Linked DNA regions of Homo sapiens: all the other regions are reported to be linked to region 3. The links are microRNA targets in miRTarBase. Many come from high-throughput screens and were not tested one by one. Region 3 holds a microRNA gene; each other region holds the end of a gene's coding sequence.

What was found. The annotated mature microRNA hsa-miR-142-3p reads UGUAGUGUUUCCUACUUUAUGGA and lies in region 3 at 3,075-3,097, shown strand. An mRNA with a match to its seed (bases 2 to 7 or 8) in the 3' UTR can be bound and repressed. Matches are read on the target gene's strand: a 7mer-m8 pairs with bases 2 to 8, a 7mer-A1 pairs with bases 2 to 7 and ends in A, and an 8mer does both.
Region 1: miRTarBase lists BMP8A as a target of hsa-miR-142-3p. The part of its 3' UTR that is shown has no 7-base or 8-base seed match.
Region 2: miRTarBase lists LRRC32 as a target of hsa-miR-142-3p. Seed matches in the 3' UTR shown: 8mer at 4,325-4,332.
Region 4: miRTarBase lists VSIG1 as a target of hsa-miR-142-3p. The part of its 3' UTR that is shown has no 7-base or 8-base seed match.

The regions. Positions count from the first base shown.
Region 1 is chr1:39,524,394-39,531,509 of GRCh38, forward strand. BMP8A (bone morphogenetic protein 8a) reads left to right here. Exons shown (of 7, transcript NM_181809.4): 7 at 1,256-5,476. The coding sequence ends at 1,405. It also overlaps the pseudogene PPIEL. Among named protein-coding and RNA genes, the nearest start is that of BMP8A, 36 kb to the left of the region's middle.
Region 2 is chr11:76,653,304-76,660,419 of GRCh38, forward strand. It overlaps LRRC32 (leucine rich repeat containing 32), which reads right to left. Exons shown (of 3, transcript NM_001128922.2): 3 at 4,221-7,116. The coding sequence ends at 6,301. LRRC32-AS1 (LRRC32 antisense RNA 1) reads left to right here and starts at 3,693. Exons shown (of 3, transcript NR_199061.1): 1 at 3,693-3,853; 2 at 6,305-6,391. RefSeq lists an enhancer at 466-989.
Region 3 is chr17:58,327,226-58,334,341 of GRCh38, reverse strand. MIR142 (microRNA 142) reads left to right here and starts at 3,024; the gene lies at 3,024-3,110. It overlaps TSPOAP1 (TSPO associated protein 1), which reads left to right and starts at 5,547. Exons shown (of 32, transcript NM_004758.4): 1 at 5,547-6,754. The coding sequence starts at 6,422. TSPOAP1-AS1 (TSPOAP1, SUPT4H1 and RNF43 antisense RNA 1) reads right to left here. Exons shown (of 5, transcript NR_038410.1): 2 at 6,221-6,292. It overlaps MIR142HG (MIR142 host genes), which reads left to right and starts at 1,822. Exons shown (of 1, transcript NR_186557.1): 1 at 1,822-3,454. RefSeq lists enhancers at 675-764, 1,355-1,424, 1,925-1,994, 2,795-2,934, 4,725-4,804 and 4 more and silencers at 1,505-1,814, 6,385-6,494, 7,105-7,116.
Region 4 is chrX:108,076,484-108,083,599 of GRCh38, forward strand. It overlaps VSIG1 (V-set and immunoglobulin domain containing 1), which reads left to right. Exons shown (of 7, transcript NM_182607.5): 7 at 565-2,701. The coding sequence ends at 898. Among named protein-coding and RNA genes, the nearest start is that of PSMD10, 12 kb to the right of the region's middle.

The sequences.
Region 1 (7,116 bases), not on the chromosome of region 3:
TGACACCTCCTGTGAGGAAGAGCAGAGCAGCCGTGCCGTCAGTGGAGTGAGACTGGGCCCAGCCTCTCCACACAAGGAGGGGCACGTCAGCAGCTGGAGGAGGAATGTTCCAGAAGGAGCAAGTGCAAGGCCCTAAGACAGGAGCAGGCTGGCCCTAAGTTCAGGGCCAGCAGGGAGGAGAGGGGCTGGGTGCAGTGAAGGGGAGGAGAGTGGAGGGAGGTGATGCCGGGGTGAGCCAGGCCAGCTCCCGTAGGGCCTGGGGTTCCCTGGGAAGGAGGGTGGATTTTATTCCAAGCAACCCCAGAGGCTGTCAGAGGTCTTCAGCAAAGCAGTGTCCTGGTCTGCGTCACCCTCCAGAAGGACCTTTCTGGCTTGGGGAGGCTGATGGTCGCGGGAGTGGAAGGCAGAGGAGCAGGGGATGAGTGAGGGCTGCTGTGGTCACCTGGCAGGTGATGGCAGCTCGACTGGGCAGGTGGTCCGAGGCAGCACGGAGGTGGAGGTTGAGCCAGGGGCTGCTCTCAGGGAAGGGAGGAGGCGAAAGGAGTCATCCAGGAGGCCTCCCAGGCGGGAGCTATGATGTCAGGGCGGGAGGAATTCTATGTTCCACTGAGGCCTCATTAGACCCCCAAGTGCAGAAGTGGGAAGGGGAGCAGGATCCGCAAGTCTGGAGTTCAGAAGAGAGGTCCAAGCTGAGCCAGGGGAGTGGAGAGGTGCGGGCACATGCAGGGCCTTGAAGTGCTGAGGGCGGATGCAGTCCTCTGGGAGAAGGAGCAGCACAGGAGAGGGGGCGAGGCCTGGCCTCCCAGAGCCTGGGGAGGGAGGCCAGGGTGTGGGGAGGCAGAGCCTCTGGGGGGGTCTGAAGGGCTATAAGAAGACAGTGGTCCTTCCAGGTTCCCCCTTGGGGACCTCACTAAGGGCACAAACCTGGCCATGAGGTTCTCCTTCCCATTATCCCCAGGAGGAAGTCTGAGCCCTTGGCCTGGGACTCGAGGCCCCTCATTAGTGCCCTGCCCACCTGCCCCACACCCTGGGGCTGCCATGTATCCCTCCCTGGGCACTGTGGGCCACCACAGCTCCCGCTCCCAGAGCTCTCAGGGCTGCTCTTATTCCTGTTAATAATTCTTATTATTGTGCTGCTCCCATGTGGCTTGGAGATGGCCAGGGCAGGGAGCAGGTGGAGCTGGGGCGGGGCTAGGTGGGTCCTCAGAGGAGGCCACTGGCCTCATGCCCCTGCCTGTGCTCCCTTCCTGGCCAGGTGCACCTGATGAAGCCAAACGCAGTCCCCAAGGCGTGCTGTGCACCCACCAAGCTGAGCGCCACCTCTGTGCTCTACTATGACAGCAGCAACAACGTCATCCTGCGCAAGCACCGCAACATGGTGGTCAAGGCCTGCGGCTGCCACTGAGTCAGCCCGCCCAGCCCTACTGCAGCCACCCTTCTCATCTGGATCGGGCCCTGCAGAGGCAGAAAACCCTTAAATGCTGTCACAGCTCAAGCAGGAGTGTCAGGGGCCCTCACTCTCGGTGCCTACTTCCTGTCAGGCTTCTGGTCCTTTCTCGGTACCTCTGTGCCCCTCCCCTGGGGTTTGTGGCTGTCACTCTGCCCGACACTTTGGTGGCCTAAGGCACACAGCAGCCTCAGAGCCTGTGCTGACTGCACTGTCTGGAGTCAGCACAGAAGTCCTATCTTAGGACCTGTCAGACTGTGGCTGGCCCCGGATGGTCTGAGGTTGGCTGACCCGAGCTTTTCTCCATTCACCAGAGGGTTTAGGTGTGAGGAGAAGGGCTCTGCCTCTTCCCAGGTACAACACTGGCCATTTCTGGGCAAAATTGGACACGCTTATGTTCTCAGCACAGTGTGTTCTGGGATTCTTCTCATTTGGTCCAGGGTGCAGTTAGCATATTAGAAAAAGAATAAGCTGGACATCCCCACGAAGCCACTGGGGATTTTTTTTTTTTTTTTCCAGATAGAGTCTCACTCTGTCACCCAGGCTGGAGTGCAGTGGTGCAATCCTGGCTCACTGCAACCTCTGCCTCCCAGGTTCAAGCAATTCTCGTGCCTCAGCCTCCTGAGTAGCTGGGATTACAGGGGCCCACCACCACGCCCAGCTCATTCTTGTATTTTTAGTAGAGACGGGGTTTCACCATATCGGCCAGGCTGGTCTTGAACTCCTGACCTCAGGTGATCCACCCGCCCGGCCTCCCAAAGTGTTGGGATGACAGGCATGAGCCACCGTGCCTGGCCACTGGGGATATTTTATGTCATGTGTATTCCCTTGCCCTGGGCCTGCCCCTTCTCCTGCCTGGGAAAGAGGTATGACTCCCACAGGAGCAAAGAATCCTGGGGGCTTCCAGTTCCCTCCACCATCTCTACCATGCTGACCCATTTGGGGCTCAGCACTGAGACAGAGGCAAGACCAGCAGCTCCAACATGTAGTGTAGGCTGGCACAGAGCAAATGCCCCCGCAGCCTGCTCCCCTTGCCCATGGCTCATGTCAGTAATCAACCTACGTACCTTTCCCACTGAACCAGGACAGGGCCTCCAGGCCTCAGCACAGAACTGCAGACAGCCACCACCAGGCATTGTCAATAAGACCTCAGTTCCCCCTCCTGCCCCACTGCAGAGCAATCCATTCCATCCAAAGCAGGGTGACTGGCAGTCTCCGGCCAGGCATGGGGCAAGGGTGGGGACTGCCAGTGTTTGCTTGTGTCTAGGAGTTATGAACAAGCTGGCCACCAAAATTGGCGTCACCCTGGGTGCCCACCAGCGCTGTCCTGTGTCTTGGGTCTGTGAGTCAAAGAAAAGGTCCCTGTCCCAGGGAGTGACAGGCAGTAATTAGGCTGAGTTGGGTGGGGAGGTTTGTCTCGGCCTCCACTGTTCCCGGAAACCGCTGTTCTCCTTGGAACAGCCACTGGGAGTTGGAGTGTTTATTTGATTTCTGACTTGCTAAGCCTGTAATTTACCTGCTGGAACAGACAGAGTCCAGCTGCCCAAACCGTGTCATTAAAAGCAGATCCTGGGCCCGCCCCATCCACAGGCACAGCCTGGCAGAGTGGTTCCACCTCCCCATGGGCCCAAGGATGCGCCTCTCTGGAGTTCACGTGCTGCACCCCCAGGGAGGGGCCTGGGGAGAGCTGGTCCAGCAGCAGGGGTGGAGGCTGGGGCCACACTGCGGGACAGCAGCCCCTCCACCTGGACCAGGGAGGGCCTCCATGTGCAAGCGCAGAGGAAGAGACCCTCTCATGTACATAAAGGGTGGGCCCAGGCTGTCTGGAAGATGGTGAGTTCCCCACTAGTCTAAGGCTTCAAGCTCAGCTAGCAGAGATTGGAAGAGGCAATGGCCTGAGTGTTAGGAGACAGGTATTCTGGTTCCAACTCAGCCACTGACTTGGTGTCAGGACAAGTCCCCTTTCTTATTCACGCTTCAGTTTCTCATCTGCAACATGAGGACATAGGACTCTTTAATTCCAAAGGCTCTTCCAACCCAGAGAACCCATCTGCCCCCATGACCTTCTCCCAGAGCTTGAGACATGGCCTGAGCCCCCTGCTGCCATAGGACTTGGGGCCTATCTGCCATTGCAGGACCTGATTTAACAGCTCTCTTCTTCCAATACTGGGCAGTAGAGTTTCGGAAACTGACAAATGTGTGGTCTCTTCAGTGCCCAGTGTGTAACCTGGCATGGTTTGGGTGTGCTAGGAGTTTGTGAAATGAATGTTTTCAAGACGCAAACGCTGCTATGCCCATCAGGTGTGCACAGCAGGCCTGAGGATCATGATGAGACTCCCTTTTTATGCAGCAAAGCACAAAGTGTGACAGTCGTGGCCTTCCTGGTGGCCAGACTTCTAGCAACTTTAGCCACCCACCAAATGACATCACATACAGAAGGCCTCAGAAAGGGAGGAGGTCGTAAGGACACACAGCTGATGAAGGGTCAGTGCTCAGCTATCAAGGTCATCTTCTGGCCTGGTTGCCTCCCACAGCCCAGGATGCATTCAAGGCTGCACATCAGGAGCATAAATAAGGGTGGTCAGCTCAGGCCCACTGGCTGCAACAAGTAGCCACTGACAGGGAGTCTGGGGCCATTTGGTGCAGAACAACCCCCAACCCAGTGGCCATCTTCACAACTGCAGCACAGTGCTGGCCCTAATGCCAGGTGAGCGTGCAAAGTCCTGTTTCTTTGTCTTTACATAGGGACCGGGCGATGCGCTTTAGAGAAATTCCCTATTATTTCACAGGAAAGGAGGCTGTGAAAAGGAGAGGGCAGGTTTTGGAGCCAAGTCGACCTGGCATCAGGTCCTGGCTGCCTTTTTTTTTTTTTTTTTAAAGACATACATGGTCTTGCTTTGTCGCCCAGGCTGGAGTGCAGTGGCAGTGTCATGGCTCACTGCAGCCTCAACCTGCTGGGCTCAAGCAATCCTCCCACTTCAGCCCGAGTTGCTGGGATGACAGGCACACGCCACCATACCCAGCTAATTTTTAAATTTTTTATAGAAACCAGGTCTCACTATGTTGCCCAGGCCGGTCTTAAACTTTGCCCAGGCCAGTCTTGAACTCCTGAGCTCAAGCAATCCTCCTGCCTCAGCCTCCCAAAGTGCTAGGATTACAGGCGTGAGCCACTTACCCGGCCTCTGCCTCTTGTTAATTTGACCACATCATGTACCTGCTGTGCCCGTTCCTTCCTCCGTAGAAGAGGGTGCTGGTCCTGCCCTTTTGAGGCCTCCATGAGGGCCAAATGTGCCATGGGACACTTAGTGCCATGCCTGCGCAGACCTGTGGAATAAACAGCAATTCTGAGCAGGCTCATTTTAAAGGGACTTGCAAATTTGGGCGTTCCTTGTGTGCCTTCCTCATAAAACCCACTCCTCCCAGAATATGCTTAGAGGTGCTGCTGTATTTACCTGAGAGCTATGCTTTTCATCAAAAACCTAAACGTGATCATCTCTTGGATGAGGTGTGGCCCTGCACACTCGCCTGCTCGTGGAAGGAGTCTGGGCCAGCAGTGACCCACGCGCTAGGGTCTCTGCTGAGGAAGTGGCAGGTGTGCGGCCCTGCCCTGGCCCCGTAGTGAGTGTGGGGCCCACCTGTGCCCTCATGGGCAGCTGAAGGGGGAGCTTTCTACCCCAGGTTCCTTTCCTTACTGAAAAGTCTTGAGCAAACAGTTGCCGCTCTCCACCCCCTGCTTTTTAAAAAAAATTTTTTCTCACGTAAGAAAATGTTATCTGTGTGCTGGGGAAAATTTTGAAAATAACAAAAACCAGAATACAAACACCCATAATCAATCACAGAGATAACCACTGTTCATAATTCCTTCCAGTCTTCTTACTTGGCACATATACATTTGTCTTTCTTTATATATGACATATGGATATTTTACAAAGTTAGGATCCTACTCTATGCACTGCTTGGTGATCGGATCTATTCAATGTACAAAATATTTTGAAAGTTTCTGTGATTAAATGTTCTTTGAAAACATAACTTTTAGCAGCCTTCCATCCCTTCAGTTCTGCTTTAGCTTCTCCCTTGTATGTCTGGTCTTGCGTTCCCTTCCTCAGAGGCCGGGATGGGGCTCCTGTGACCAGGGTGGCAGGCAGCCTAGTGCTGAGATCGCATGGCCACGAGGCTGGCCATGGGTCTGGAATCCCTGGGCCAAGAACCTCCTCTCCTTCTCTGTGCAGCAATTGGCACAAGCAGGGGCAGGTGCCTCACCTCTGAGGCTTAGGTGACCTCAGAGTACAAGGGTCACAGATGGACCCACTGGGATAACTTCCGGGGAAACCCTGATGGTTCCTCTCCCACTGGCCTCTGGCTGGTCCCTTGGTCCCTCCTTCCCAGGGTAATCAGGCAAGCACAGCAATAAGGTCCTCCCTTGTTTCACAGGGTTGTGGGACCAGTTCTCCCTCCCGGGGCCTCGGGCCAGCCTGCCTGTCACCCCCAGAACCCACAGTGTTGAGCAATTCACACACATCCTCTTCTCTCCTGGGCTTCATGGCAGCCCTGAGTAGCTGCCTTATCCTGGCCTCAATGCTGCCTGTCCTGACGGCCATGACTGACCACCAGTAATGACACCGACATTGAGGAGTGAGAGTGCCTGCTGGGAAAGCTGCAGGCCCAAGCTGATCAAGCGGGGAGAAGCCCCACCCAGGGTGCCAGAGGTGGAGCTGGCTTGGGGTCACTGGGGCCAGGGCAATAGGCTTCTCCTTTCCCCACCACCCTCACCCTGGTGGATACTCAACATCAAGACTTGATTCAGCCAGCATTCTGGGAGGCCAAGGCAGGTGGATCACCTGAGGTCAGGAGTTTAAGACCAGCCTGGCCAACATGGCGAAACCCCCATCTCTACTGAAAATACAAAAATTAGCTGGGCATGGTGGCGGGTGCCTATAATCCCAGCTACTTGGGAGGCTGAGGCAGAATTGCTTGAACCTGGGAGGCAGAGGTTGTAGTGAGCTGAGATCATGCTCCAGCCTGAGTGACAAAAGCAAAACTCCATCTCAAAAAAAAAAAAAAAAAAAAAAGGCTTGATTCAGACAGAGCTCCTAGGACATGTCATGGGAGCCAGTGGGCAGCCCTGGGGGAGGTTTCTGGAGACTGATAGGGCTCAGTTTCAACACCTGAAAGAGGCCATGAGGTGGCCTGGCTGGCCCAAAATCGGTGCAGGGTGAGAGGCCATCCTAGCACAGGCTGCGCACCATGACACCACACTGCAGTTTCCAGGTAGGCCTGGGGTTGGGGAGGAGGAAGTAGGAGCCACCCCTGGCTTGTTTCTCCCCAGCACCAAGCACATCCGCTGACTAAAGAAGCGCCCTGTGTGCTCCTCGGTAATACAGTTCTGTTGGTTCAGGAAGTGCATAATGAGTGCCAGGTCAGTGAGACTGATTACAAATGTCCATCAGGCACAAGACCAGCTGGTGTGAGAGCAGGAATGGTAACTGACCAGAAAGAAAAGACACAGGCACTTTTACATGGCTTTGACTTCTACTGCCCCACAATGGGCTGCCGAGGGCATCTCCTAAGGGACTTGGCCTAAGAGAGAAGAGCAGCAGCCGAGATGCTATGGCCTGTCCCAGCAGCAACCTCTGAAAACACCTGGGACCTGGCTGGCAGGCAGCAGTATA
Region 2 (7,116 bases), not on the chromosome of region 3:
GCCACGGAGTATTAATTGACTTGTTCTCTCAACTGAAGTCCTCCTTCCGTCTTAGCTGACAGGTCATGTCCTCAGAAAGGATTCTTCTGAGTCCCACCCCTCAGTGATCTTGCCCTTCACTCCCTTTCATAGCCCTCATTACAATTTGCCATCGTTTTTGTTTGTGTGTGATTAATGTCTATTTCCCAAGCGCCACAAGAGGAGGAACGCTGCCTGTGCAGCACCCAGTATGAGATGCGGCAGGGTCCCGGCAATGCTGGCTGCTTTCAGTCATTTGCTCACTCACTCTCTCCTTCATTGACTCAATCTTTTCTGCATTTCTTTATTCATTTTTTCCCTTATTCACTCCAGAAACATGCTATTGGTCCATGCCTTTTCCCGATCTGAATCTTCCGCTTTCTAGGGTGGCTTTTTCAGAGAAGGAGGGAGTGGGGACATGATGGCAGAATTCTGGGAATGCATCCACAACTTGGGAGGGCCTAGCTGGGTGAGTTGGAAGCTCTCCAGGGAAGGAGGGAAGATTTCAGAAGGCTGGAAGTCCTGAGCAGAAGGTGCTGAATGAGGAGAGAGGAGAAAGTGATGCGATGGAGGCTGGGCCAGGCAGACCCCTCTACTCCCAGACATGCCCTGGCTCTTCCTGCTGCCAGGCCTTGGGTCCTGCCATTTGTTCTGCCTGGAAAGCCTCTTCCCATCTCCACGTGTTGAAATCCTACCCTTCCTTGCAGAGCCAGCCCAGATGTCCTCGAAGTCTTGCCTCACTTCTCCAGCTGGAAGGGCTGCTCCCTGCTGCAAACAAACTTCCCGAGCACAAAATCTGGACCTCCCTCAAGGCGCTGACCACTTCCTGGCTTGGGTTGTGGTGTGGCCCCTCTCTCCACCCCATAGACAGAGGCTCTGTCCAACTGTTCCCTGTATCCCGCAGGGCCTAGGGCCCAGCACAGAGCAGATGCCCAAGCCACTCTGGCCGAACGAATGAGCAGTGCTGAGTTTGGGGGTGTGGGCGATGATTATGACCCCATTTTACAGATGCAGAAATAGAGGTGCAGCTAAGTGACGGTCTTGGCCTTGGTCCCACAGTGAGGAAGCAGCAGAACCTAGACTCAGGCCCGTGTTTCTGGTCCCAGAGGCCAGACTCTTTCCAGGGCAGCTTGGTGGGAGGTGAGGTAGGGTGGGGTGGAGTGAGACTGGATCCTGGGAACCAGGAGGCCAGGGAGAGCTGGAGTTCGGACGGCCAAGTTCACGGAAAGCGCAGCTGGGGAGGAGCCAAGGTATTTATTATGCTTGGTCTCCAGTTCCAAACAGAGCTGATGGATGGAGCTGCTCCAGTTCCTATAAACAGCTCGGGCCTCCCTCTCCCCCACCCCGCCCTCCCCATTCTCAGCCACCACAGCCCAACTGTTTCCAGTGCGATAGGGGTGGGGGTGGGGGGAGATGACCAAGAAGAGAAGAATGGGAGACGAGGGGGAGCAAAGGAGGGGGGGAGGACAAAGATAAGACGGGGTCCTAGAGGCCTGAGGAAGCTGCAGGGAATGGAGGGTGGTCAGAGAGGATTCTTTGCCTCCCCACTGGCCCCTGCTGCCGTGGGCAGCCCACAGTCTGCATTCCCCTGTCCTCTCTGTGTCCCCTAGGTCTGTTCAAAAAGCCTCCTCACCACACTCTCTGAGGGCTTGTCTCAACTCCACAAGCTTCTGAGTCCTGGAAGACAGGGGCCATTCACTCAGAAAACCTTTTCTGAGCTGGCTTTAGTCTGTGTTGGCTCACAGGCCCTGGGGACAGATAGGACTCCAGGTAGGACCTCCCCCCAGGACCTCCTGGCCTGGTGGGTGGGTCAGGCAGACACCCAATGCTGAGGGCAGCCCAGACCTGTGGGCAGCTGGAGGAGAGAAATCCAGACAGTCTCCCCAGAGAAGGTGATGGAGGTGATACAGGCGAGGGTGGTGAAGGAGATTGTGCAGGTGGGTGGGGGGGTGAGCTGGTTCCGGCAGAGGAGGCGGGAGAGGTGCAGGAGGCAGTGCTGCCTAATGGTTAAGACTGCTGGCTCCAGAGTGGGACAGCCTGGGTTCAAGTCTCATCGCTGGAGCTCAGTTCTCTAAAATGAGGATGGTAACAGTAGAAATCTCTTCAACGGCTGTCAGAATTAAACATGACAATCCACATCCAGTGCTCAGCATGGGCCCGCCCGGAAGTGCTCAACAATGGCCATCTCTGAGCATGTTGTGAGAGGTGGCGGGAGAGAGATGGGCCTCATGGGCTCAGTGAACTGCCTGAAGGACAGGGGCACAGAACACAGACGGTGGGTCCCAGATCCTGGAGGATGTGGCCAGCCTGTGGGTCTGAGAGGGTGAGTTGCTGGCGCGTCCCGGGACCCGTTCCTGGTGGAGTGCCACGCCAGCGCATGGAACCCCAGGAGTTGGGCCCTGCACCTCAGGCTGACTGTGACCTGGGAGTGGCAGGGCCTCCCCTCTCCCTGCAAGCTAAGAGCTCGGGAAGCTGGATGTTCTGATGACCTAGTTGGCTGCTGTGTCCACGTTTGGCTGAAAACAGGAATTTCTGCCTCACCGGGGGTCTTGGCCAGGTGAGCAAACTCCCTGTTTGTCAGGAAAAGGGGTCAGGGGCCTGCTGGGCTCCCTGCTGGAGCAGAGGCCCGCAGACCCTAGGCGAGCTCAGCCCAAGCTCCTGCTTTCCCCTTAGGCCTTCACGGAGCACCTATCGTGTGCCAGGGGGTGGGGCTCTCTCCTTTCTCCCCCAGCCCTACCCCATGAAATAGGTGTTTAGAATTTCCCTTTGCAGACTGGGAGCCAGGAGCAGGAATGGGGAGGTGAGAGGGCACGGACCAGAGAAACGGAAGAATCTCCAGGAGGCAGAGCTGCCAACGCTGGGCCCAGGGGCTGCAGGGCCAAGGGGAGGGGTCCAGGCTGACTCGGGGTGGGCAGGAGAAGCATCACTGAGCAGGAGCTTGGGGGAGAGGCAGTCAGGGAAGGGAAGGGCAAAGGCGCAGTGCCAGGCTGCTGACAGGGCGAAATGGAAGGTGTGAGGGCCAGAGGAATAAGCACCCCCTGCTCTGCATGCTCTGCCCTGGCCTGTCACGCCTCTCAGTGCTCCCCTACCCAGGTGAGGCTGCTTCTGTCCCACACCCGACACTCACCCTCCAACTCCAAGCCAGGAACCAGGTGTGGTTTTCTTCCAAGTTCAACCTTGATCTGCAGCCTGGCTGATCACTGAATTCTCCAGTCCCTGGGGACCTTTAGCCCTCTACCTGGGAAGGCCTCTGGGTAGCAGAATTGGACTTTCAGGAGAGGTGGGGCTGGAGACAGAGATGTGGGCCATCAGAGCAATGGGGTGTTTACAGCAATGAGGCCATAGTGTTCCCAAGGGAAAAGGGCTTAGGATGGAGCCCTGGCCATCACCACTTAAAGCTGGCTCAAGGAAGATGAGCAAAGAGTGGCCTGAAAAGGAGTGGCCTGGGAGGGAGGAGATGGCTTCCTGTGTGGGATCACAGCTGTGGGGAGAGCATGCCCAGCAGGGGTATGGGTGGGGGGCCTGCTGCACAGGGCCTAGGGAGAGGAGGTCTGAAAAGCGTGCTGAGTTTGGCAAAGGATACCCTTGACGCTGTTAGCAAGGGCAGCATGGAGCTGGGAGGGGCTGAAGGCAGCTCCAGGCGGGTTGAGAACGGGAGGGGCGGGAAGGGAAGTGACTTTACCAAGAACCTGGCCTGTGAAGAGTGGGAGGACGAAGGGGAAAGTGGCTGAGGGGCTTCTCACTATTTTTAAGACGGACAAGACTTGAGTCCAGCTGAAGTCTGAGAGGAAGACGTAAACAGGGAGAGGCTGGAGGCAGAAGAGAGCATGACGGGGTAAGGGAGAGAGGACGGGGCTGGGGACCCCAAGGAGGAGGGGCAGTGCAGCCTCTGAGATAGGGCACAGAGGGCTGAGCACAGAGAAGGGGAGGGGGCCTGTAGCTGTAGCAGGAAGGAAACAAACGGAAGCCCTCAGCCTCTCAGCCCTGGGGTGGGGAGCACAGTCGCCTGTTGAGTGTGGGGCAAGAGGTGTAGCAGGGGCCATGCTAGTGGCTGCGGCTTCAAGGTCCAGGGTGGTGCTGGCCCAGAGTCTCAGTGTCCCCAGGGATTTGCCATGATGATTGAACGACCGTAATGGGATTGAGCGGCAGGGTTCTAGTGGACGCAATGAAGCGGATTGCAAAGAGGAAGCTGGCAGCCACACTGCTTCTCCAAAATTAGTTTTTAATACATTCAGGTAGGTTATACAAAGAGTTGGTCCCGAGGCCTGGGCTGAGGCCTGGGCCCTGGGAAGTGACAGCAGCCCTGTGTAGTGTTTTCAAAGATCAGGCGTGGGGACCCACACCTTGGCCTCCAGGCCTAAGGAGGAGTGTTACGTGCAGTAGCACCCGTGGGTGTGATCCCAACCAGGACTGGGTCTGCCTGGGTGCTCCACACACCACCAGGGCCTAGCCCTGGCTCTGCCCATTGACTCTCCCTTAACTTCCTCTGGGCCTTGGTGTTCTCCTCTGTAAAATGGGGTGGAGAGAGTGGCATTTTCACTTTCTCGCACATTACTGAGCCCACATCATGAGCCAGACTGTGGGCCAAGCACAGGTAAGATGATGAAGACAGCAAAACAAGGTCTTGAGTTGGTCCCAGCACGTCCATTCTTCCCAGACAGCTCATGACTCCATGGTATGAGGGATGGGGGTCATCTGGGTGAGGCTTTTTACCTGTTTTTGTAAGAGGGAAAAAAGATCCTTGCATGATGAGGCACAGAAAGGAAGTTTGGAGCCAGCATTATCTTGTGATGTGATAGCTGAGAGAGGACATCACTCTGGTCCAACCCCCAATCTCACCCCACAAATAAGGGCTCTTTTTTCCCCCAGAGGCTCTGTATAAGCTCTCCACAAGTTTCATTCTCTTCCTAAGCCTCAGTTTCCCCATCTGTGCAATGGGGAGGTTGGATTCCATAGTCTCAAACTCCAGGCTCTGCTCAATAGAGGAAAAGGGAATGAGAGAATGCAAGAGCACAGAGAGAACAGGAGAACCCACACCAGGGTGGAAAGGAAGGGAGGAGGGAAACAGGCAGAGAAGGAGGAGAGCGCCTGCAGCTGCCTGCCTGGGAGAGAGGAGAGAGCAGGTGTGCACAGCACAGGATGCTTCCAGACCCTGCTCGGGCTATGTGGGGCCACTTCCTGTCCACTTAACGGCCTGCAGCCCCTGCAGTGGTAAAGATCAGGCCCTGGAGACAGAAGGATGAAGGTTTGAATCTCACCTATGGCATTAGTTAGCTGGGGCCCTGGAAGGAGATTTTCAGAACTTCAGTTTCCTCTTTTATAAAACGGGGATAAAATATAGAGCTGTCACATAGGGGCAGACACAAGGCTTGGATTCAAATCCACATCTGCCAAGCTGGGTGCAAAACAGAACCAGATATCTAAGGTTTTAGCTCCTGGCTCAGCAGCCAAGGTGGGGCTGCGATGGAGAAGTGGGGCTGGGCAGGGACGGTGCTTAGAGCAGCACTGGGGTCAGGGTATGCAACATGAGAGTGCCAGGAAGGGAGAGGGCAAGTCCAGAGCAGGAGACGGAATGGTCCAGTGCTGGGCTGGACCCCTTAACCAGACCCTGCTGGAGCCGCCGTGGCCCACCTAACAACACCAGATCCGAGACACACTCGTACAGCTCCAATTCTCTCTTCTGGTCCTAAGCTTTTCATTTTCAGAGAGACTGAAAGTCATTCTCAGAAGACGTGACAAACAGTCTGCTTGGAAATGTCTCAGACAAATCCTCCTGGGCTTGGCCCTCCCTCACCCTGGCACAGCCGGGGCAGGACTCACCGCACCAAACCAGCGGGGCCTGCCGAGCTCTGGAGCCCTGGGCTTTCACACCTCAGGCCCTAAGCACACTGCGTGGCGGCCACGTGGCTCTGCAGCACTCTCTCCTACCAGACTGGGAGATTCTTGAGGGCGGGAATGTATCTCATTTCCCAGCATTCCCAGTGCCCAGAGCAGGGTGTGGCACAAAATACATGCTCAGTGAAGATTTGTTGATCTGACAGGTCAACATTATTCTCGGCTGTCCCTGAAACCGCCCAACTTCTGGCTTCCACAGCTGGACCCAAAGTGCAGCCCGGGAAGGGGGTCACCCACTGATGCAGCAGGCGGCAGAGAAAGGTGTCCTGGGCTGTAATTTGGAGACCAGAGTTCTGGGATCCCGGATCACTGTGTGACCTTGAGTCAGTCCTCACTCTTCTCTGTACCTCAGGCTCCCCCACTGACCTAGAGTGTCTCCCGGCTTCTTTAGGCTTTATACTGTTGGTTAAACTTCTGCCGGCGGACGCAGCAGCAGGCGGCCAGCGTGGTGAGGAGGATGGCAGAGACCAGTATGAAGGTGAGGATGATGATGAGGTTGATGTTCTTCAGTCCCCCCTTCTCACAGTCCTCGGGACGCACGTGGCTCAGGGACACCTCCTCCTGGGAGCTGAAGCGGCAGATCAGGTCCTGGGTGGCGTCCACGTCCACACGGCCCTGGTGCAGCTGGGCTGCCAGCCAGCCATTGCCGCAGCAGCTGAGTGGATTCCCCTGCAGGTAGAGGCGCCGGAGGCTGGTCTCCAGGCCACCCATGGCACTGCCTGGCAGGAGGCTGAAGCTGTTGTTTCGCAGGTCCAGCACCTCCAGTGACACAGCCTGTGTCCAGGCGGGAAGGTGGCTCAGGCGGTTCTCGGCAAGATTGAGCCGCTTGAGGCAGATGAAGCAGGGCAGGTCCACCTGCAGGACCATCAGCCCGTTGCCCTGCAGTGCCAGGACCTCCAAGGAGGCCTCCAGGCCTCCCAAGGCCCCCGTGGCCACCTCCAGCCCAGGATTGGAAGAAAGGTCCAGCTCAGTCAGTGGGGTGTGGAGGAAGGCCCCTGCCCTGAGCAGCTCTATCTCATTATCCACCAGGCTCAGGCTGCGGAGGGAGGTGATGCCGGAGAAGGCCACACAGCCGGAGGGGCCAGGCTCATCTGGCCCCCCACAGGGGCTGACTCGGTTCCCCTGCAGGTTGAGCCGCTGCAGGCTGGCCAGATTGGCAAAGGTGTATGGGGGCAGGTCCCGCAGGGCATTGCCCTGTAGGAG
Region 3 (7,116 bases):
AAGAAAATAGATAAATAAAAATAAAAACTATTGGTGGTCTTTAGGCATTGAGGTTGTACAGAGAAAATCAGCCTCTGTTGTCACAAGACAACAGGCAGCAGGGACACCTCACCCTGCTCAGGACAGGAGAAGGGCTAGATTGGAGACTGTTGGAGCCATGTGTGTCCCTTGGAACCTCAGCTCTGACTCGCCACAGGTCACATGCTGAGGGGTCTATGGCATAGCTGGGCCCAGAAGCCGGGCTCCTGGGTCCCATTCTGTGACTCTCTTTTGTGGGGACAGGACGCCTCTGAAGTGAGGGCTATGGAGGCATCATAAGCAGGAGTAGGAGGTAAGATGCTCTCAGGGGAGGAGCCCTGAAGAATGGGGGTCCAGGAACCCAGGTTACTGCACAACTTTGATATTCTTATCCTCTTATCGCCTGGGGCAGCCACTTCCCCTCCACCCAGGTCAGAGGCAGCGGTGGTCTCTTAAAGGAGTATCGCCCCATTTCTGGCCAGCTGGCCCTGCAAGGCAACCCTCCTCACCACTTTCTCTTTAGACTCAAGGGGGTGAAAGGCCCCATTCCCCCTTTCTCTGTCCCATTTTAGGGACCTGGGAATGGGGCAACTTTCCAGGTTGAAGGACCCCCTTCCTGGAGGGAAGGATGTGGGGCCATCTCCCTCCCCACTGCCCCCATGCCAGTCCTCTTCTAGGCCCTGAATCTGACAGCTCCCTAAGGTCTGTGTGGGCCTAAACGGAGGACCCAGAGAAGAGGTCCATGGCCTTCTGGGAAGGAGTCACTGGGTGGTTTTCTCTCTACCGCTCCTACCTCCCCAAACCCATTCCTCTTGCTTCCAGAGCCAAGCCCATGGAGAGGCTTGGAGAACGCTGGGGGAAGATGGTATGGGCTGGGCTCAGCCGACGCTGTCCCCTGCCCACCCCCACACCCTACTCCCCTCCCCCAGCCAGGGGCCCTGGGCTGGGCAGCTTCCTGCCTTCCCCATGGGGAAATCGGGGGTGGCATGCAGGTGGGTGGGCCCCATGCCCACATCCGGTGGCCGCCAGAACCTTCCCTCGAGCCTCTTTCCCGCCACTCCTCCAAGCCCCCTTCTCTCCGCATAGCACCTGTGCCCCACCTTAGGACCTGATCCTCACCCAGCTCTGCCCTGCCCTCTTGTCCCCACAGGTCCCAAAGAGAGCGTGAACACCTAGCCTAGTGCCATCAGTCCACCGGGCCTGAGAGTGTCCCCCGCACTGTGCCCTGCAGGCTGAGGCTGCAGGAGGGGTGGCTTTGTGGGGTGCTGAGGACAACAGTCTCCATGGACGCCCTTCATGCATCAGCACCTCCATGGCCCTCGGGAGCACACGCAGAGGAGCCAGGGCCTGGCCTGAGTGTTGGGAAGGGAAGGGAGTTTTCTGGGCTGAGGTCAGCAGCGGTGGGGCTCAGAGAGAAGGTCCTTTTCTTGTGCTGGAATTCTGGACTCCCCGTTTTGGGCACTCACCGAGGGCCCTGTCGAGGAGCCCTGGTCTTCTGGGGTCACCCTCAATGCCCTGAGTCAGTCCCAGGCTCTTGAGCCATCCCTTGGAGCTGGTGCCACGGGGGGAAGGGCAGCTGGGGCCGGAAGCCACCTGCCCAGGGCATGAGAGAGGGTCCCCAGCCCTCCCGCGGGCCCACCCCCTTCTGTTTCCTGTCAGTCTGTCCTCCCCAGGGAGGGAGGGAGGGAGGGCGCTCATCCCCTGCGGGCGGGGGCGGGGCGCGCTCTGAGACCGTTGGGCGCCCTGAGATCTGGCCCACGTGGCCTCGGGGTTATAAGCCCTGCCCTCCCTGAAGGGAACCCCACTTCGGAGCCTGGAGCACAGGGCGAGCTCTCCTCCGCCCTGCAGCCTCAGGTAAGGATCCGGACCTTCACTGCTGCCCCAACTGGGGCTCCTCAGCTCGGGGCCTCTAGGGGCTTGGGCTGCTGGTCTGGGTGGAGGCGCGTTGGGGGTGTCGAGGAGCTTGGGTGCAAGCCCCATGCGGGAAGCTCAGGGCAAAGCGCCTTGAAACCCTCTCTAGTGAAGGAAGGTAAAATGGCTCCGGGACCCCAGGCGGGGAAAGAGGTGTCCAAGGAGGAGGGCTGGAGAGTAAGGCGGGGATGGCAGAGGGTACGCAGAGGCTGAGAAGTGGGACCAGTGTCTCAAGGGGCGCCAGCCTCTTCCTCCGCCCAACATGGCCACCATTTTTGTTGGGATAGCCTTGGGCTCCTGCCAGGGGAACAGCAGGGCAGTGAGGGAGTCAGGACTTTGGGCTGGTGGGGAGGCCGAGAATCAAGGCTCTGGGGAGTCAGGACTTTGGGGCTGGTGGAGTGGCTGGGGACTGAGGCCCTGGGGGGTCAGGACCTTGGGCTGCTATGGAGGCTGGGACTGAGGCTCTGGGGGAGTCAGGACCTTGAGCTGGTGGGGAGGCTGGGAATTGAGGCCCTGGTGTGTTCAAGACCTTGGGCTGGTGGGGAGGCCAGGGCCTGAGGCCCTGGGGGGTCAGGACCCTGGGCTGTTGGGGAGGCTGGGGACTTAGGCCCTGGGGGGTCAGGATCTTGGGCTGGTGGGGAGGCTGAAGGGTGGGGACTGAGGCTCTGGGCAGTCAGGACCTCACGGTTGGGGTGGACTGGAGACCAAGACCTTGGCAGGGGAGCTGTGGCTGCCTCATTTGGACGCTGGAGGGTGGCTAGCGTGGCTGGAAGCGGCCAGCCAGGGGTTCACAGAACTGAAGGTGAGGCCTCCAGAGGCCCTAGTCTCTACCTGAGTGTCTCTGAAACTGGGGGGATGGGGTGGAGCCTTTAGGGGGAAGGGAAGAGGGAACTGAAGAGGAAGTGGGGGAGGGAGGTAGAGGAGGCAAGTCTGGCGCCATGCTGAGTCACCGCCCACAAGGCCCAGGGCGGGCCCTCGGGGGGCCCTGGCAGGGTTGGGGGGATCTTAGGAAGCCACAAGGAGGGCTGGGGGGCTCTTGGAGCAGGAGTCAGGAGGCCTGGGCAGCCTGAAGAGTACACGCCGACGGACAGACAGACAGTGCAGTCACCCATAAAGTAGAAAGCACTACTAACAGCACTGGAGGGTGTAGTGTTTCCTACTTTATGGATGAGTGTACTGTGGGCTTCGGAGATCACGCCACTGCTGCCGCCCGCTGCCCGCCACCATCTTCCTCGGCGCTCGGGGACCTCGTGTGACAGGTGAGCACCTTACGGCCCCTCCCTACCCTGCCCAGATGCCTGAAAGGCCTCCATGGCTTTCCTGCCCTTCCTGGTTCCGGACAGCTGGGGAAAGGCCACAGCAGCTCCTCTGCTGCCCTGCAGTCTTTGGGGGCGGGGAGGGCTGGACATGTGGAACCCTGATGCAGCCGCAGCGTCAAGGACGAGGAAGGGGTGGGAAGGGATGGTACGTGGAGGGGAATGGGTGGTGGGACCAGGGACCCAATGCTAATAAAGACTGGACTGTGCTTCTCTTTTGTCTGAGACTCTGTTGCTGGGGTGGGGAGCTGAATGCGGGCGGCAGGCACATGGACAGTATGGGCGCACAGAAGGGCTGGGAGGGAGAACCTCTGTCGCTCCTCCAGAAGATACGGGTTTGGCCCTGCCTATGAGATCAGAAGAGGGCTCTGGGCCTGGCCAGGCCACAGCCGGAGGAGAGAAGGGCCTGGGCCATCTGCAGAAAGGGGCAGGGATGTAAGGCATCCTCTCACCTTCTACCCTAGCTCTGGCCCTATCCTGCCCCCCTACATACCCAAACTGAAAGCTGCCTACATCCAGTTTTAATCTAAGAAAGTCTAGGGGGTCCTAGGTCATATAAAAATTGGGCAAAATCCACTGTGGCACATACACAGCATCTTAGACAAGGGCACAGACACTCATATACAAAGCACACACTGAGATGCAAATGCATTTACACACAGAGGCCCCATTCAGTGTGCCAGTAACACACACACAGACACATGTGACATGACTGGCATGACACACACAGGGATTACACACACCCAGGGCACATACATATTCAGTAGTACACACATGCAATGATAGAAACATAGGGCGTGTCTTACACATAGAAGAGCACACACATACAGTGACATTTGCATAATAAACACGGTGGCTCCATACACATACATAGATAGAGACATGTTCATATATCATGATAAATATAGAATACATAGATACATGGTGATATATATATATAAATCAAACCATGTCATTATGCATATTTACATGACGATATGAGCATGTCATATATTGTGTAATCAATTACTACATTGTGCCATATAGTAGCATCCATATCTATATATATCATGATGTGTTGTAATTTATAAACTCATGCAATGATAGCCTCCCATGCACATAACAGCACACACATAGACACAGTGGCAAACAAACATAGATGCAATGACACAGAAACATACATACAGATACACCCAATGTGTTTTTGTTACGTTTTATTATGTGACTCATAGACACATAATAGCACACACATATATACACACAATGGCCCCTTCACATATACAGAAATAGATAATGTCTATTCTATAGATGCATACTATACACACGCATGCGCATAATGGCATGCATATATACTCTGACCTAAACAGCAACACATCATGCAGTGGCGTGCGTGTTGACCTACACACTGCTTTAGGGAAGTGAAGATGTCCACTCCTCCCCATGCACCCCCTACCTCCAGTTCCATTGGCTCTTGCCTGGGTGGAGCCCACAGTCAGGGGCTCTAGGGTTCAGTATCACCGCTGCTATTCTGTGGGGGTGCCACACGAGGGCCCCCGACCTTGGCTGAAACTGGCTTGCCTAATGAGTCCCGGGTTCAGAGTGGAGAGGGGCTGCCTCTCGGGGCTTCTCCCAACACCCCTGGCTCTGGGGACTCTGTCTAGACCCCTGCCACTGCATATAGACTGACTCCTGGCTGAGGGGATTCTCACGTCCTTGTCCCCCAAATTATTTAGCAACAAGATCTAAGGCTAGACAGAAGATGAACTTCCAGGCAATTCGGGACAAAGCCAACCCAACAGGCCATGTGGGCTTCCCTGGTGGCCTGGGACAGCCAGGTTGCCCCCCAAGTGCAATCTGCCAGGAGGAAGCAGAAGGAATTCTCCGTCTATTTCTACCTGTCTCTTTGCTTGTCTTCCCGGTTTCTTTCTCTTGGTTTCTGTCTCTCTCTTTGTTTCATCTCAAGTCCCATCTTTTCTAGTTCTGCCCTTCTCTGTGGCTGGATCTCTGTCATACCCTCCCCCGTTCTGTCTCTATCAGTCTCACCCGATGTAGGGAGGACCATCTGCACCCCACTCGCCTCTGTACTCCGGAAGGTGTGAGAATGTGTGAAGATGAGGGTGGGAGGCCACATGTGGGAGCCCTGGGCTGACATGCCGTGAGAAACCTGCTCTTCCTTCTGTCCCCGACCCTGTCAGCCGGTTCAGCCCACCAGTCCAGCGCCATCACCATGGAAACCAGCAGCCGACTTCCTATTGGTGGGTGGGAGGGGAGGAGGAGGAGGAGGAGGGGAGGGCTGGCTCTTCCCGGCTCACCCCCCCACCCAATTCTGAGGCTCAGCCCTCCTCGGAGCCCACCATCTCGAGGCTCCTGGACTGTAAGGGACCCCTGCAGTCCCCAGAGCAGAGGCCAGCAGGGGCTGAGACTATGAGGCAAGCAGCCCATCGACCCAGGCCTCCTTAGGACCAGCCCAGCCACCCAGCAAGCGAAAGAGCAGCAGCAGAGAGCAGAGCCGGAGATAAAGGACCACAGCGGACCACTGGGGATCACCCCCAGCAGCTCCTGAAGCCTCTGGCCGGGCTGAGGGGTTGCGACAGACGGCCAGACCCACAGACACTGACAGACACACAACGACACCGATGCACACAGCTGCACGACACTGACACACTCAGATACAACCAGGGACAGCATCACATACTGCCACAGCCCTGCAATACAGACACCCACACACACACACACAAACAACTGGCAACTCTGAAATGGGCAGACAGTGACACACAGCACCACCCCCCTCAACACACAGAAGTGGGGGCACCCATCTTCCCAACACATGAGACAGCATTGACCTGCACGGACAGACCTGGAGACACACACACGCACCCTCACCCAGGCGCAGCTGTCGGTGGCCTCTGCACATCCTCCCTACCCCCACAGGGACACCCTCGCTCCTCCACATACTCGCGCACACACACAGCTACCAGCAAACATAGCTCACATACCCCTGGCTCCAGCTCCAGCAGCCCTGGCGCCTTCTGCAGCCTCCTTTGTGGGTGGGGAAGAGCTCAGCCAACCTTGGATGGAGCGTCGGTGAAGCAAGAGCTCAGAGGGGAGAGGGGCTGGCCTGGCATGACCCTCGCCAGTCCCCCCACCTGGCTGGGTGATGTCCCCCGGCCCGGGTTCTGGGGCCCCTTGGCAGTACCATGGAGCAACTGACAACCCTCCCACGGCCTGGGGACCCTGGAGCCATGGAGCCATGGGCACTGCCCACCTGGCATAGCTGGACTCCAGGTCGAGGGGGTGAACCTAGCAGTGCAGCCCCAAGCATCGCTGATACTCCTCCGGCAGCTCTGCAGCTTCAAGAACTGAGGTCTGAGGAGAGTTCCAAGCCCAAAGGAGACGGGAGCTCCAGGCCCGTGGGGGGAACTGACCCTGAAGGAGCAGAGGCTTGTCTGCCCAGCCTGGGCCAGCAAGCATCCAGCTCTGGACCCGCCTGCCAGAGGCCAGAGGATGAGGAAGTGGAGGCTTTCCTGAAGGTAAGGGATCTGTGGAGGGCTGGGGTCTGCAAGGTGGGGGTCTCTCACCATGTCCTCCAGCCTGGCCAGGAGGTGAGGCGAGGTATGCATCCCCAATGCCCACCTGTCCTCTCTTGGCCTGTCTGTGGGTCCATCTCTGTGGCTATCTGTCCTCTCTTCATCGAGCAGAAATCTGAGGGGCTCCATTTCTTTCGTCATTTGTCTGTCCTTCTGACCCTCTTTGCCTGTCTGTCTAGATCTGGCCCTGCTGCTGCCCCGTCCCTCTCTGTGCCTCCTCCTGACAGTGTGTCTGTCTGTGTCTCTTCTTCCATGAGTCTGTCTGTCCTTAGGGGCTGGGGGATACAGGGGGAGTGTGGAGGTGC
Region 4 (7,116 bases), not on the chromosome of region 3:
TAACATACTTGTCTTAATACCAACATAGTCATGAAATATAATTTTAAATTTTTTTATGGAACAAGAGACCCACAAGGACAGTGCCCAGGGAACACAGAAGTTAGAATGTGGCCCAGCCCACAGCTCATGCTCTTAATCACTCTATTTCTTTCCTAGTGTGTATCTCACTCATTCATTTTTTTTCATCTCCTTGCTTCTACAACTATCTATTGGGTATCAACCAGGTGCCAAGTATTGTACTAGATGGAGTGAGAAATAGCGATACATCAGAGCTATGAATTTGGACCTTAAAGACCTTATTAGATTCTTAGACTCTTTCATTCTGACATTATTTTCCCACCTTGAAACACTGCTCTTTCTTAAACTTTCATGATATTGTTGAGACCTAACCTTTCTGAATCCAAAATGACCTATGGCCTGACAATGAGTCAGAATATCAGAAATAACAGATTTCCTGAAGTCTGGGACCTATGGTCATTGAAGCTACAGAACATATGGTTTCACATGAAATTTCAAAGTTAGCATCTCCCTAACTTGTTCTTTTCTGGGCCTTCTTTCTTGCAGGCCAATGACAAAGATAAACCCAAGGGGAGAAAGCGAAGCAATGCCAAGAGAAGACGCTACCCAACTAGAAGTAACTCTACCATCTTCCATTCATGAGACTGGCCCTGATACCATCCAAGAACCAGACTATGAGCCAAAGCCTACTCAGGAGCCTGCCCCAGAGCCTGCCCCAGGATCAGAGCCTATGGCAGTGCCTGACCTTGACATCGAGCTGGAGCTGGAGCCAGAAACGCAGTCGGAATTGGAGCCAGAGCCAGAGCCAGAGCCAGAGTCAGAGCCTGGGGTTGTAGTTGAGCCCTTAAGTGAAGATGAAAAGGGAGTGGTTAAGGCATAGGCTGGTGGCCTAAGTACAGCATTAATCATTAAGGAACCCATTACTGCCATTTGGAATTCAAATAACCTAACCAACCTCCACCTCCTCCTTCCATTTTGACCAACCTTCTTCTAACAAGGTGCTCATTCCTACTATGAATCCAGAATAAACACGCCAAGATAACAGCTAAATCAGCAAGGGTTCCTGTATTACCAATATAGAATACTAACAATTTTACTAACACGTAAGCATAACAAATGACAGGGCAAGTGATTTCTAACTTAGTTGAGTTTTGCAACAGTACCTGTGTTGTTATTTCAGAAAATATTATTTCTCTCTTTTTAACTACTCTTTTTTTTTATTTTAGACAGAGTCTTGCTCCGTCGCGCAGGCTGTGATCGTAGTGGTGCGATCTCGGCTCACTGCAACCTCCGCTCCCTGGGTTCAAGCGATTCTCCTGCCTGAGCCTCCTGAGTAGCTGGGACTACAGGCACGTGCCACCACGCCCGGCTAATTTTTTGTATTTTTAGTAGAGATGGGGTTTCACGTTGTTAGCCAGGATGGTCTCCATCTCCTGACCTCATGATCCGCCCACCTTGGCCTCCCAAAATGCTGGGATTACAGGCATGAGCCACTGCGCCCGGCCTCTTTTTAGCTACTCTTATGTTCCACATGCACATATGACAAGGTGGCATTAATTAGATTCAATATTATTTCTAGGAATAGTTCCTCATTCATTTTTATATTGACCACTAAGAAAATAATTCATCAGCATTATCTCATAGATTGGAAAATTTTCTCCAAATACAATAGAGGAGAATATGTAAAGGGTATACATTAATTGGTACGTAGCATTTAAAATCAGGTCTTATAATTAATGCTTCATTCCTCATATTAGATTTCCCAAGAAATCACCCTGGTATCCAATATCTGAGCATGGCAAATTTAAAAAATAACACAATTTCTTGCCTGTAACCCTAGCACTTTGGGAGGCCGAGGCAGGTGGATCACCTGAGGTCAGGAGTTCGAGACCAGCCTGGCCAACATGGCGAAACCCCTTCTCTACTAAAAATACAAAAATTAGCTGGGCGTGGTAGTGCATGCCTGTAATCCCAGCTACTTGGGAGGCTGAGGCAGGAGAATCGCTTGAACCCAGGAGGTGGAGGTTGCAGTGAGCCGAGATTGTGCCACTGCACTCCAACCTGGGTGACAGAGTGAGATTCCATCTGAAAAACAAAAACAAAAACAGAAAACAAACAAACAAAAAACAAAAAATCCCCACAACTTTGTCAAATAATGTACAGGCAAACACTTTCAAATATAATTTCCTTCAGTGAATACAAAATGTTGATATCATAGGTGATGTACAATTTAGTTTTGAATGAGTTATTATGTTATCACTGTGTCTGATGTTATCTACTTTGAAAGGCAGTCCAGAAAAGTGTTCTAAGTGAACTCTTAAGATCTATTTTAGATAATTTCAACTAATTAAATAACCTGTTTTACTGCCTGTACATTCCACATTAATAAAGCGATACCAATCTTATATGAATGCTAATATTACTAAAATGCACTGATATCACTTCTTCTTCCCCTGTTGAAAAGCTTTCTCATGATCATATTTCACCCACATCTCACCTTGAAGAAACTTACAGGTAGACTTACCTTTTCACTTGTGGAATTAATCATATTTAAATCTTACTTTAAGGCTCAATAAATAATACTCATAATGTCTCATTTTAGTGACTCCTAAGGCTAGTCCTTTTATAAACAACTTTTTCTGACATAGCATTTATGTATAATAAACCAGACATTTAAAGTGTACAATTTGATGAGTTTTGACAGAGCACATACCCATGAAACCACCACACCCATCTAGAGAGAAAACATTTCCATCAGCCCAAAATGTTTCTTCATGCCCCTTTGTGCGATCCCACCATTGCCCTGGACCTAGGAAATCACTCATTGTTTTCCATCACTAGAGGTTAACTTTGCCTTTTCTTGGCCCTCATACATATGGGATGATACAGTATGTACTTTTTGTGTCTCACTTCCTTCTAAGGTGAATCCTTTTTAAACAAAGTAGTGAGTTTCTCATTTATCACTTTCAGATTTTCATGTAAAATATTTTCTTAAACTGCAAACTCCTTTCTATATAAATCATAACCATACACAGATTGAGGTAGAGTCTCTGTAGGTTTTAAGGAGAGTTAAAATGGAAATTAACATTACACTTATCTAGAGCCATGGAGAGAAGAGATAGCAAGCGTTTATTTCTGCATTTTCTTCGATGCGTCCATTTTCAGAAAATGTCAGGGATTTCTGATGCATTTATAATTTCATTCATACTAAATATGATAGTATGGTATATGGTGTCTGATGGACACAAGAAGCAAAATAATGAAGGTCTTAAGAATGACCTAATATTTAGAGATTAAAAAGTAAACAACAGTGTAAACATCTCAATTACCAGAATGCCCAAGTAGCTGGAATTCATTTTTCCTTTCCATTTTTATTATAGAGGCAAATCGCAAGAGACTGACATGTAATAGTCAACAATTACACCCCAAAATTTTTGATGGATCAGTGCAGTCCAGGAAAGAAAGCACTACTGGTAGTCTTATAGAGCTCTGTCCTTATTAGCACTGTTCTGTTCAAAATACTGATGAATAGTTGGATCAGTGGCTTGTAACCTTTTTCTGAGGTCATGGAACACCTTGAGAATCTGCTGAAAACTCTAAACTCATCTTCACTGAAAGATGCTTATACACATAAAGTGTCACATATAGTTTCAGGTGAGTTACAGACTCCCTGAATCCAAGATGAAGAAACAGTTACTTAGATCAAAACACACAAAGTACACTTAATAAATTTGTGGATGACTTGCTCCTAGGGGGAATGGCCACTAGGCTATAAGAAAGAATCACGATTCAGAATGATCTTGATAGCTCAAAAGTGGAGTTGAAACCAACAAAATGAATTTGACAGGAATAAATAGAAAAATCTGGATTTAAAAATATGAAGTACATGTTGCCCAGGCAGAAACCCTACATGGGCAAGGTTAGGAAGCACATGAGATTAATCTGAATTCGTACCTTTGGATCTCTCCTTTCAGTGCCATTTCTGGCCTTGTGGCATCTTATTTTCCAAACACCCAGGATTCTCATGCTCCCATTAGCTCAGTGACCCTCTCAGTTCTTCTTCCCTCGGGCAAGACTCATTGCGCAGGACCTAAAGTAGCTGTTCTGTAACCTGTTCTTGTCCAGTGAACATGATCTTTCATCATTCAGTGATCTCATTAGGTTGATAAATGAGTTAGTCTTCTTTGGAGTATTTACCTTTTAAAGAGGACTCAAGCACAGATAATCCTTAATCTGAAGAGTCTAAACAATCCAGAGGAGATATATTTCTGAAAAAAGGAAACTTCTCAGCCCCTCTCAAATCAAACCAGGTGGTTTACCACCCATTCAATCTACTCTGGGCAACTCAGTTTTGATCAACTTTGATCAGAGCTAGAAGAGTGCTCTGAAATAAATAGTATTCAAACTTTTTCAACCCCAGCACACCTGAGTTATAACACATACAGTGGGCCACTCCTAACAATGATGAAGCTGGAGGTGGGAGATGATGTACAATTAAATTATTGGTGGGGGAGACAGGAAGGGGTAAATGTTCTTTTAAAAAGCTGGTTCACTCTTATATATTGCCACCCAGCCCCTAGAGGAGAATCCCTGAGTGCAGAGAAGTAAAATAATCTGCCTGAGATTACGCAAAGTCAAAACTAGATCCACATCATCTGGATTTCAGGGCAATGCTTTTCAACTGCACCAAACTACTAATTTCAGTGAAACAAACCCAAGCTTTAGTAATAAAAAGTTGTTTTACAATGTCTACCTGCTGGAAAACACATCAGTGGGCCTCATAAAAGGTTTAAACTAATCGATAAAGACTCAGTACTCCCACTTGTCTTTGAAACTTTGGTTTAAAAACAAAACAAATAATTCAGAGATGATAATGAGGGCTCCAGGAAACCATAAAAAGATATGCCAATAAAGAAAAACTGTTCCACTACTCACAACACTTCAGAAAGCAAATGTGTGGGGTTTCCACACCAAGTAATTCTCCAATTCTCTGCAGACACTGACTGGGTGTCCTGCAATTTAATTCAATTCTGACACTACCCAGGGTTGGGTCTGACAAGACTGCCCCCAACTTCAGACACATCACAAGTATTGGGTGCCCAGTGTACCCACACTTCTGTTAGACTTGGGTACAAATTGGGGGTTCCCGCAACCTCAAGTTTGATAATTTGCTGTAATGGCTCATAGAACTCAAGGAAACACTGTTGTCCACCAGTTTATTATAAAGGACATTATAAAGGATACAGATGAATGGCCAGCTGAAGAAGTACATAGGGTGAGGTCCAGAAGGGTCCTGAACATAGGAGCTTCTGTTCCCATGGAGTGGGGGTGTACCACTCTTCTGGCATGTGGGTGTGTCACCAACCTAGATGCTCACCAAACCCTGTAGTTTATGAATTTTTATGGAGGCTTCATCACATAGGTATGATCAACTATTAACTCAATCTCCAGCCCCTCTTCCCTCCCTGGAGGATGGGGGGTTGGGGCTGAAAGTTCTAATCCTCTAATCATGGCTTGGTCACTAATAGCCCCCGTTCTAAAGCTATCCAGGAGCCCACTAAGAGTTGCAACATTAGAACAAAAGGCACTCCTATCACCCAGGAAATCCCAAGGGGTTTAGAAGCTCTATGTAAGACACTCCTATCACTCAGGAACTGTCAAGGGTTTTAGGAGCTCTGTTTCAGGTACTGGGGGCTGAGACCAAATATGTATTTCTTATTACGTCACAGCCAAATTAAAGAAAAGCACCAGGATAGGTGTTTCAACTAACCGGTTATTTTCAAAATGCCAGAATACCTTCCATTTGGTCCACTGTCTTTGAAGAGGCAGAAAAGAAAATGAATTAGAATCCAGGAAAGCTAGATTTTGGTACTGGCTGTTTCTCTAGCTCTGGGTATATTCTCATCTGTAAAATGGAGATGATTTCTGCCTTCTTAAAGACTACAGTGAGAATAGATGTGAAAACTTATAAATTAAAAAACTGTAGTAGAACTATAGTTGTAGAAATGAGGTCTCCTGACAACTGATTCAGTATTCTTTTTTGTCTCAACCAGGGATTTTTAACCTTTTGGGGGAATCACAGATGTCCTTGAGAATTTGATGAAAGCAATAAATCCTCTTCCCAGAGAAATTCACATTACAAATTTCTGCTTTCAATTTTAGGCAGTCAATAGAACTGTGAAGCTGGAGCCATAAACCACAAAGTCAAGAATCTTTATACTCTATCAGACTTGCCAACAGATTGATTTGGAGGCCTTGTAGTGTAACAGAATATGGGAGCAGAAAGCAGCAGACGCAGCCATCTAAGGAATTCATTGTAGTTGGTACAGCTGAGAAATTGGGGAATCAAACACTAGTGTCATACAGTTAAATGTTAAGTCAAAGATTATGAAGAAAAACACAGATTTACTTTGAAGTTCCCAAAACCTCAGTGAAATTGTAATTCTCTATAACATATTTAAGAATGTAAATGTTTTCACTATTTTCATTGGCCTTTTTCTTCCATCGTATATTCTCAGTTAAGCTTTACCATTAAATTATTTATGTATTTTGAGATGAATTGTCGCTCTGTCACCCAGGCTAGACTGCAGTGGCACCAACTCGGCTCACTGCAACCTCCACCTCCTGGGTTCAAGCAATTTTCGTGCCTCAACCTCCTGAGTAGCTGGGATTACAGGCGCCCACCACCACACCCGGCTAATTTTTTTAGTAGAGATGGGGTTTCGCCATGTTGGGCAGGCTGGTCTTGAACTCCTGACCTCAGGTAATCTGCCCGCCTCGACCTCCCAATGTGCTGGGATAACAGGCATGAGCGACCATGCCCAGCCAAATTATGTTTTGAAACTGTAAAATCTGCTGACCTTGAATCAGCTTCATCTCTAACACCTTTCCTACAGACACAGGTAACAATCTGATCAATATCCGAGGCCACTAATATCTTTATTTTATACAAATCTGTGATCTAAATATTAACAAGTCATGCCATTTAAAATGCCAAAAGCCTACAAATTACCTGTGGCTTAGCTCCATCTGTATTGCTTATTGAAGAACTCGGATGAATTTCCTTTTACACCCACGAAACCTATCACCTCAGACAAT